Homo sapiens: one gene and its partner. The protein of the gene in region 2 purifies or fractionates together with the protein of the main gene of each other region. This does not show direct contact. Each region holds a gene or a part of one and is shown on either strand. Other genes may lie near its edges. The genes, in order: PTPN23 and NRCAM.

What was found.
Region 1: the proteins of NRCAM (region 2) and PTPN23 fractionate together in Homo sapiens (co-fractionation; one large-scale study listed by BioGRID). This does not show direct contact.

The regions. Positions count from the first base shown.
Region 1 is NC_000003.12:47,401,301-47,405,119, reverse strand, and holds part of PTPN23 (tyrosine-protein phosphatase non-receptor type 23), read right to left. Parts: intron 469-3,819; coding exon 341-468; intron 116-340; coding exon 39-115; intron 1-38. UniProt on the Homo sapiens protein: Plays a role in sorting of endocytic ubiquitinated cargos into multivesicular bodies (MVBs) via its interaction with the ESCRT-I complex (endosomal sorting complex required for transport I), and possibly also other ESCRT complexes.
Region 2 is NC_000007.14:108,446,201-108,450,019, forward strand, and holds part of NRCAM (neuronal cell adhesion molecule isoform A precursor), read right to left. Parts: intron 1-3,819. UniProt on the Homo sapiens protein: Cell adhesion protein that is required for normal responses to cell-cell contacts in brain and in the peripheral nervous system. Plays a role in neurite outgrowth in response to contactin binding.

The DNA of each region.
Region 1 (3,819 bases), on a different chromosome or scaffold from region 2:
TGGGGAGTAGGGCCGGGGGAAGGGATCAGGCAGCTCACCAAGGTTGTAGAGAATACAGGCCTGCTCGTACTTGATGTCCTCATGGGCCACAGACTTGCCTGAGAAGATCTCTGTCCTGCAGACATGGCACCCCAGTTATCTCGAGGGCAGGAGCTAGCCAGGGCCCTGAGATTAGGTAAGGGGACTAAACACCCCATTGTGGGGATGTGGGGAGGCCTGGGGGGACCATATGAGGCCATTCCCCATCCTATGCAGCAAGGAGAAGGGGGAAGGGAGGGGAGGAGCACCCCCACCACCCAGACTCCCCGTGGGATCCTCCAGCCCTGCCTGCGGCTCTCACCAGGTGACAGGGACAGCGGCCTCCTGGCCCGAGCCCATGGGGACCCGACTCTGCAGGTAATGAAGCTGGCCGAGGTACTTGCGGAGGACACTACAGCCCTCAAAGTCTCGTGGGACACGGACAGCATTCTGGGGGGCAGGATGGGAGAAGCAGGCCTGTTGTCATATGGGGCAGTGGACACGCAGGCCAGCTAACTCACAAATGCCAGGAAAATGCATCACAGCTGGCCGACTGCACACACCAAGGGATCCCAAAAAGTCCATGGCTATACCTATAGTCGTTCAACAAAACATTCCACAAGCCAGGGCTGGCAGCTGGCCGACTGAATCTATCCCACATAGTTTTTCCTTTTTTAAAAAAAAAAAAAAAAAAGAGTCTCATTCTGTCACCCAGGCTGGAATGCAGTATTCACTGCAACCTCCTGGGTTCAAGCAATTCTCCTGCCTCAGCCTCCCAATTAGCTGAGACTACAGGCACACGCCACCATGCCTGGCTAATTTTGTATTTTTAGTAGAGGCGGGGTTTCCCCATTTTGGCCAGGCTGGTCTCGAACACTTGACCTTGTGATCCACCCGCCTCAGCCTCTCAAAGTGCTGGGATTACAGGCATGAGCCACTGTGCCCAGCCCATCTCAAACATCTGAAAAGCAGTTTGCAACATGTTTTAAGTTTTTTACTCTACTTAACTTTTGGCCCACAGTTTTTTGAATTTAATAGAGACAGGGTTTTGCCATGTTGCCCAGGCTGTTCTCAAACTCCTGGGCTCAAGTGATCCTCCCATCTCTACCTCCCAAAGTGATGGGATTAAAGGTGTGAGCTGCCACACTCAGCATGACCTACAGTTCTGTATCTAAAAGTTTACAGTAACAGACTTCCAGGAAAGCAAATGCTTGGATATGAACGCAAGGATATTCATCACAGCATTATTACCAGGGTCAAAAACTGGACTCCAGGTCAGGTGCAGGGGCTCACACATGTGGTCCCAGCATTTTGGGAGGCCAAGGTGGGAGGATCGCTTGAGGCCAGGAGTTAGATACCAGTCTGGGCAATGTAGCAAGACCCTGTCTCAACAAAAAAGAATTTTAAAAATTATCTAGGCGTGATGGTGCCTTTGGTCCCAGCTCCTTGGGAGGCCGACGGGAAAAGATCGATTGAGCCTGGGAGGTTAAGGCTGCAGTGAGCTATGGTTGTGCCACTGTTTTCCAGCCTGGGTGATGAAGCAAGACCCTGTCTCTCAAAAAAAGCAAAAGGTAAAACTGGATACCCACCAAAATTCCCACTAAAGGGGACTGTTTTAAATTAATTATGTCAAGGCGCCTCACAAGAGAATATGCTGCAGCCATGAAAACTAAAGACAAGAGTCTCTAGTTACTCATATGTTAAGATGCCTATGGCATGCTATTGGGGGAAAAAAAAAAGAAAAGAATGTGGCCAGGTGCAGTGGCTCACGCCTGTAATCCCAGCACTTTCGGAGGCCGAGGCGGGAGGATCACGAGGTCAGGAGATCGAGACCATCCTGGCTAACACGGTGAAACCCCGTCTCTACTAAAAATACAAAAAATTAGCCGGACGTGGTGGCAGGCACCTGTAGACCCAGCTACTAGGGAGGCTGAAGCAGGAGAATGGCGTGAACCCCCGGGGGGCGGAGCCTGCAGTGAGCCGAAATCGCGCCACTGCACTCCAGCCTGGGCGACAGCGAGACTCCGTCTCAAAAAAAAAAAAAAAGAATGTAACAAATGGGATCATACAAATACTGATATCCAAATGGGTACACAGGCCAGGCAAGGTGGCTCACGCCCATAATCCTAGCACTTTGGGAGGCCAAGGCGGATGGATCACCTAAGGTCAGGAGTTCGATGCCAGCCTGGCCAACATGGTGAAACCCCGTCTCTACTAAAAATACAAAAATTAGCTGGGTGTGGTGGTGTGTGCCTGTAATCCCAGCTACTCGGGAGGCTTAGGCAAGAGAATCGTTTGAATCTGGGAGGCGGAGGTTGCAGTGAGCTGAGATCATGCCATTGCACTCCAGGCTGGGCAACAAGAGAAAAACTCTGTCTCAAAAGAAAAAACAAAAAAACCCACAAATAGGTACATAAACAAAAAGAAAATTCAGAAGACTGTACACCATAATGTTAACCGTGATTATCGCTGAATGACAGGATTTAAGTAATTTATCTTATTCTATATAAATAGATAGATATGGCTGGGCGAGGTGGCTCACGCCTATAATCCCAACACTTTGGGAGGCTGAGGCGGGTGGATCGCTTGAGCCCAGGAATTCGAGACCAGCCTGGGCAACGTGGTGAAACCCCGTATCTACTAAAAACACAAAAAGTAGCCAGGCATGATGGTGCGCACCTGTAATTCCAGCTACTCAGGAGGCTGAGGCAGGAGAATCACTTGAATCCGGGGAGCAGAAGTTGCAGTGAGCTGAGGTTGCACCACTGCACTCCAGCCTGGGTGACAGAGTGAGACTCGGTCTCAAATAATAATAATAATAATAAATAAATAGATAAATATGTATACATCTGACAGACATGTATTTAATTCTTCATATTGTTTATGTATTTATATTAAACATTTTCAATATTTATGATAAACAACAGAGCTATTATTTTGGGGGGAAAACAACAAAAAAATGAACCCTCTGCTTAAACAAACAGAAAAGCAAACAATACACCCTCCAAGGAGCAGGTGCACAGTGAGGGGGATGGCTTGACACCTGTCTGCCCTCAGCCCCCTGCAGAGAGGACCAGAGCCTCTCACTAGGACTTAGCCAGAAGAAATCCTCCAGGACACTCCACTCTGGGAGCTCGGCTCTGAGCTGCCAGCAGGGATGCTCTCAGATGGGGTACATACACCCTGGGGACAGTGGAACAGAAAAGTCAGGCACCAGTTGTACTCTACACCACTTCCCAGCAGTGTCTTGGGAGACTCTGAAACTCAGTCTCTTCTTTAAACAGGGATGATAATCTCCCTGGTAGTGAGGCTTCTAGAATGCCCAGTGCAAGGATAAGGCATGTCACAGCTGCAGCTCACAGCATTAGGCCAATGCTTCTCAAATCTAGTCATTCTTATCATACCCCTCCATCATGACCTCTGCCATATCCAAATACCACTTGTACTTAACATTTTTCTTTAAACAATCCATTTTTAAAATTAAGAGCCACATCCTAAGCAATAACAGCTCTAAAATCACAGGTGTGATGCGCTAGCCACACAGTTTTTTTCAATACTCACTAAAATAGCACATATAAAAGTATTGAAAAATCTTGGCCGGGCATGGTGGCTCATGCCTATAATCCCAGCACTTTGGGAGGCCAAAGTGGGAGGATCACTTGAGCCCAGGATTTTGAGACCAGCCTGAAGAACATGGCGAGACTCCGCCTCTACAAAAAATACAAAAATTGGCCAGGTGCGGTGATGCATACCTGTAGTCCCAGCTACTCAGGACTACAGGCTTGGGAAGGGGGAGAAGTG
Region 2 (3,819 bases):
CAGAAATTTTTTAAATAGTACCCTTCTGGATTCAATGATTTCACCTGCTTGCTCAAGTGCCTAATTTAGAACCAGCAAGCAAATTACAATCTACAGAGTCCAGGCATGAAATTATAAATGTTTGGTTTCTCATGGTCTAGATCTATCTATGTCTTCAAACCAGGGCTGAGAACAAAACCCCCCAATTTTCCCCAACAAAGATCCACCTGACATTCTGACATTTTGCAATATTCATGTATTCAGTCATTCATTCTTGCACACACTCATTTATCAAATTTGGGGGCTCTCAGATACATACCACCATGCATAATGTGAAGAGCAGCTCAGGCTCCTCGCAGAACAGAGCAAGGATGGTTTCCGAAGTTAGGAGACATGGAGAAAGCTGACTAAGATAAGCAAGGGCCCCCAATGCCTGGATGACTAGTTATCTGCTTTTCTTTATCATGCAGACTCGGCCCCTCAATGTTATTTAGAGCAAATATCAAATATTTTTATACAATCGTATGTTCTCTCTGCATTTACAACCTATGTCTTTTTTTTTTTTTGAGATGGAGTCTCGCTGTGTTGCCCAGGCTGTAGTGCAAGTGCATGATCACAGCTCACTGCAACCTTCGCCTCCTGGGTTGAGGTGATTCTCCTGCCTCAGCCTCCTGAGTAGCTGGGATTACAGACGCCCACCACCACACCTGGCTCATTTTTGCATTTTTTTAGTAGAGATGGGGTTTCACCATGTTGGCCAGGCTGGTCTCAAATTCCCGACCTCAAGTGATCTGCCCGCCCAGGCCTCCCAAAGTGCTGGGATTAGCATGAGCCACCACACCCAGACCCACCTGTCTACCTCTTTACTAATTTTTATTCAGCCTTATTTGCTTAGGTTTCACTTGGTATCTATTTGCTCTTTCAACAGAGTCTCTACTTAGATATTTCTGAAAAATTTTTCATGAATTGAACTTTGATACATTACAGCAGCTCACTCATCATATAATCCTTATGCAAAGTGAAGAATCCTCTTTGATGTGAACAGTCACCCCATATGGGTTTGCCAAGTTCACTTCTTTCTTTTTTTTTTTTTTTTTTTTTTTTTAGACAGCGTCTCGCTCTATTGCCCAGGCTGGAGTGCAGTGGCACAATCTTGGCTCACTGAAACCTCTGCCTCCTGGGTTCCAGTGATTCTCCTGCCTCAGCCTCCCGAGTAGCTGGGATTACAGGCACGCACCACCATGCCTGGCTAATTTTTGTTTTTGTATTTTTAGTAGAGAGGGGGTTTTACCATGCTGGCCAGGGCGCTCTTGAACTCCTGATCTCATGATCCGCCTACTCTGTCCTCCCAAAGTGCTGGAACTACAGGTGTGAGCCACTGCGCCCGACCAAGTTCACATTTTCATATGCTAACTTTCTCAAGCTAGGGCCACCTGTACATAAAGGAACAAAACAGCTGGAAAATAGAGTGGATTTGGCTAGGAATTTAAGCATGTTACACTGAAATAACTTTAGCTTTCAATTCTTAGTAAATTCTTCTCAATACATTTCTTTTAAATGTAAATGTCTTATCATATTTCATTTTTGTAAGGTGACTTATGAGTTATTTCTATTTTATGATGTCAAGTTACTGCAATGACCCAAAGTACTACAGTAAAATATCCCTAGAATATTTCGTATTGAGTGCTATGAAGTGGAGACTATTCTCCATTAGCCAGGCAATAGCCATAAAAACTTTTATTCTTTTCCCTTTCTCTTTCTTTCAAATTTTAAGCTATTACCTTTAGAGGTAATGAGTCTGATCATGAACTCACTCCCTCTCTGCTGTTTAATGAACCCCCTCATGGTTTTAGGACAGCAGTGAACCCTTGACATCTATTTACCTTCCATTATAATTTCACATCACAGTAACTGTTACTAGAAACGTAAACATAACCATGGAGTTTTTTAAACCCCAGCACATCTATTAAAATGAAATTTACCTTAAAATTCATGAAACACACAAGGTATATATCATGATTCATGTAAAACACAACATGTCGTGTAAGTTAATATAATCATTCTGAAGTAAATTAGATGTTGTTCACATTAGAGTATTTATTATGTTGGAATTTCCATGTTACTAACTGTTCAAATATTGCCATGTCAATGTTATTTCCCTAAAAGTAGAAATATTCATTTGAATGTACTAAATATACATTTACAAAAATGGCTTTTAGCCATCATGCTACTAACATCAGAAGAAAAGACTATGTCGAGTCATTTAAGCAGTCAAAGATGCGAAAGCAAAATTTGGTGATGTTTCAACTTTCAATTTTTCAGTTTTCAAATACTACAATTTTTCCATTTCCAATCGCAGTTTTACAGAATACCAGGAAGAATTTCAAATTACCCAAAATTGCTTTTTATTTCACTTATTATAATACATTCTAGTACCCTCTACCTCCTAGTAGCTGCTTTTATTATTCTAGTGATGCACACACTAGAAAACGTTTCCTACTGAAATGTTTTCAATCAGATGCTGCCTACCAAAATGAATGGAAAACCATGTGCCATATGAAAAACTTCGAGAGTAAATATAAGAGTGATGGACTCCCACCGGGAGCAGAAAGCCAAAATCACACTTCATAAATATACTTATCTGGGAAGAAAAAACACTGGTTAGACAATATTTAGGACAGATGTATCTTGTTGCACATCAAAACAATCTGTGGACAACACCACAACACTGCGATGCAATTTTACAAGGGAAGCTGGTTGGGCATTTCTGTATTTATTCAACTAGATAATAGAGGGGAAAGCCGCAGAACAGTCAGAAGAATATTTGCAATGCAATTAGGGGGAACAAGTGCATCTGAGTGAGCGCCAGACACAGGGGCCTCCCCTTAATTCACACAGTCCAATGTTTTAATGCAGCGTACAGCAGCAAACTGAACTTCCTACAGTTTTAAAACTTTTGTCAGTTAACTAGATGTTTACCAAGTGCCTCGCTTGGGCACTCAACATTTCGGGTGTGCCATCCAGCTCTATGTAGGTTGTTCCAACACCATCTGTCACTTAAGCTTCCACAGATTCACAAATTTCAATTCGAACTAATCTACTCGGCACTCAAACTGAAGCTATAATTCAAATTTCAACATGAAGCTTGAATTCCTTTTCAGTGTTCTTCAACTTTGACCCAGCTCCCCCCTCCCTTCACTGAAAAGGGCCAAGACAACAGCCCAGCAAGTGGGGCAGGCAAAACAGGCCTCCTTTGTTCACTTTTGTCCTTTCAGCTCTCTATTGAGGTAAGGGACTGAAAAGGCACACCAGGTTTTGGAAGGCAGCAGCGGACTCGCTCGCAAGCCATCCTTCCTCAAAGAACCAAAAAACTCCAGGACAAAACTCTTTGGACAGGCCACTCTTACCTTAAGGCATAATTAATGGGAGATTAGTACTTCCCCTTTCCCTTGAGAGAGAATCTGTTAGTGGTGTTGAATATGAGTCTGTAAATGTTCATCAAAAATGCATGCCATAAATCATGCCATTCAAATGCCAAGGACATCAAAAAGTGGCATGAAATTAGCTTTAAAGTTGAAATTTGGAGAAAAGATCACTACATGCTGAATACTCATACTGAATTTTTTGAATGCTCTCAGCCCACTTGAGAAAGATAAATCAAATTCATTGCATATTACCCAGTGGAAGACCTCCTACAGGATTCCCTCAGATTGCCCTAGAAATAGATTTTTTTTTTTTCTGGTTACAGTGGGTTTTGAACCAACACACTATGCACATAATAAAATTTAAACATATATATATATTCAACATATATATATTCAAAATATAGTTTCCAGCCCT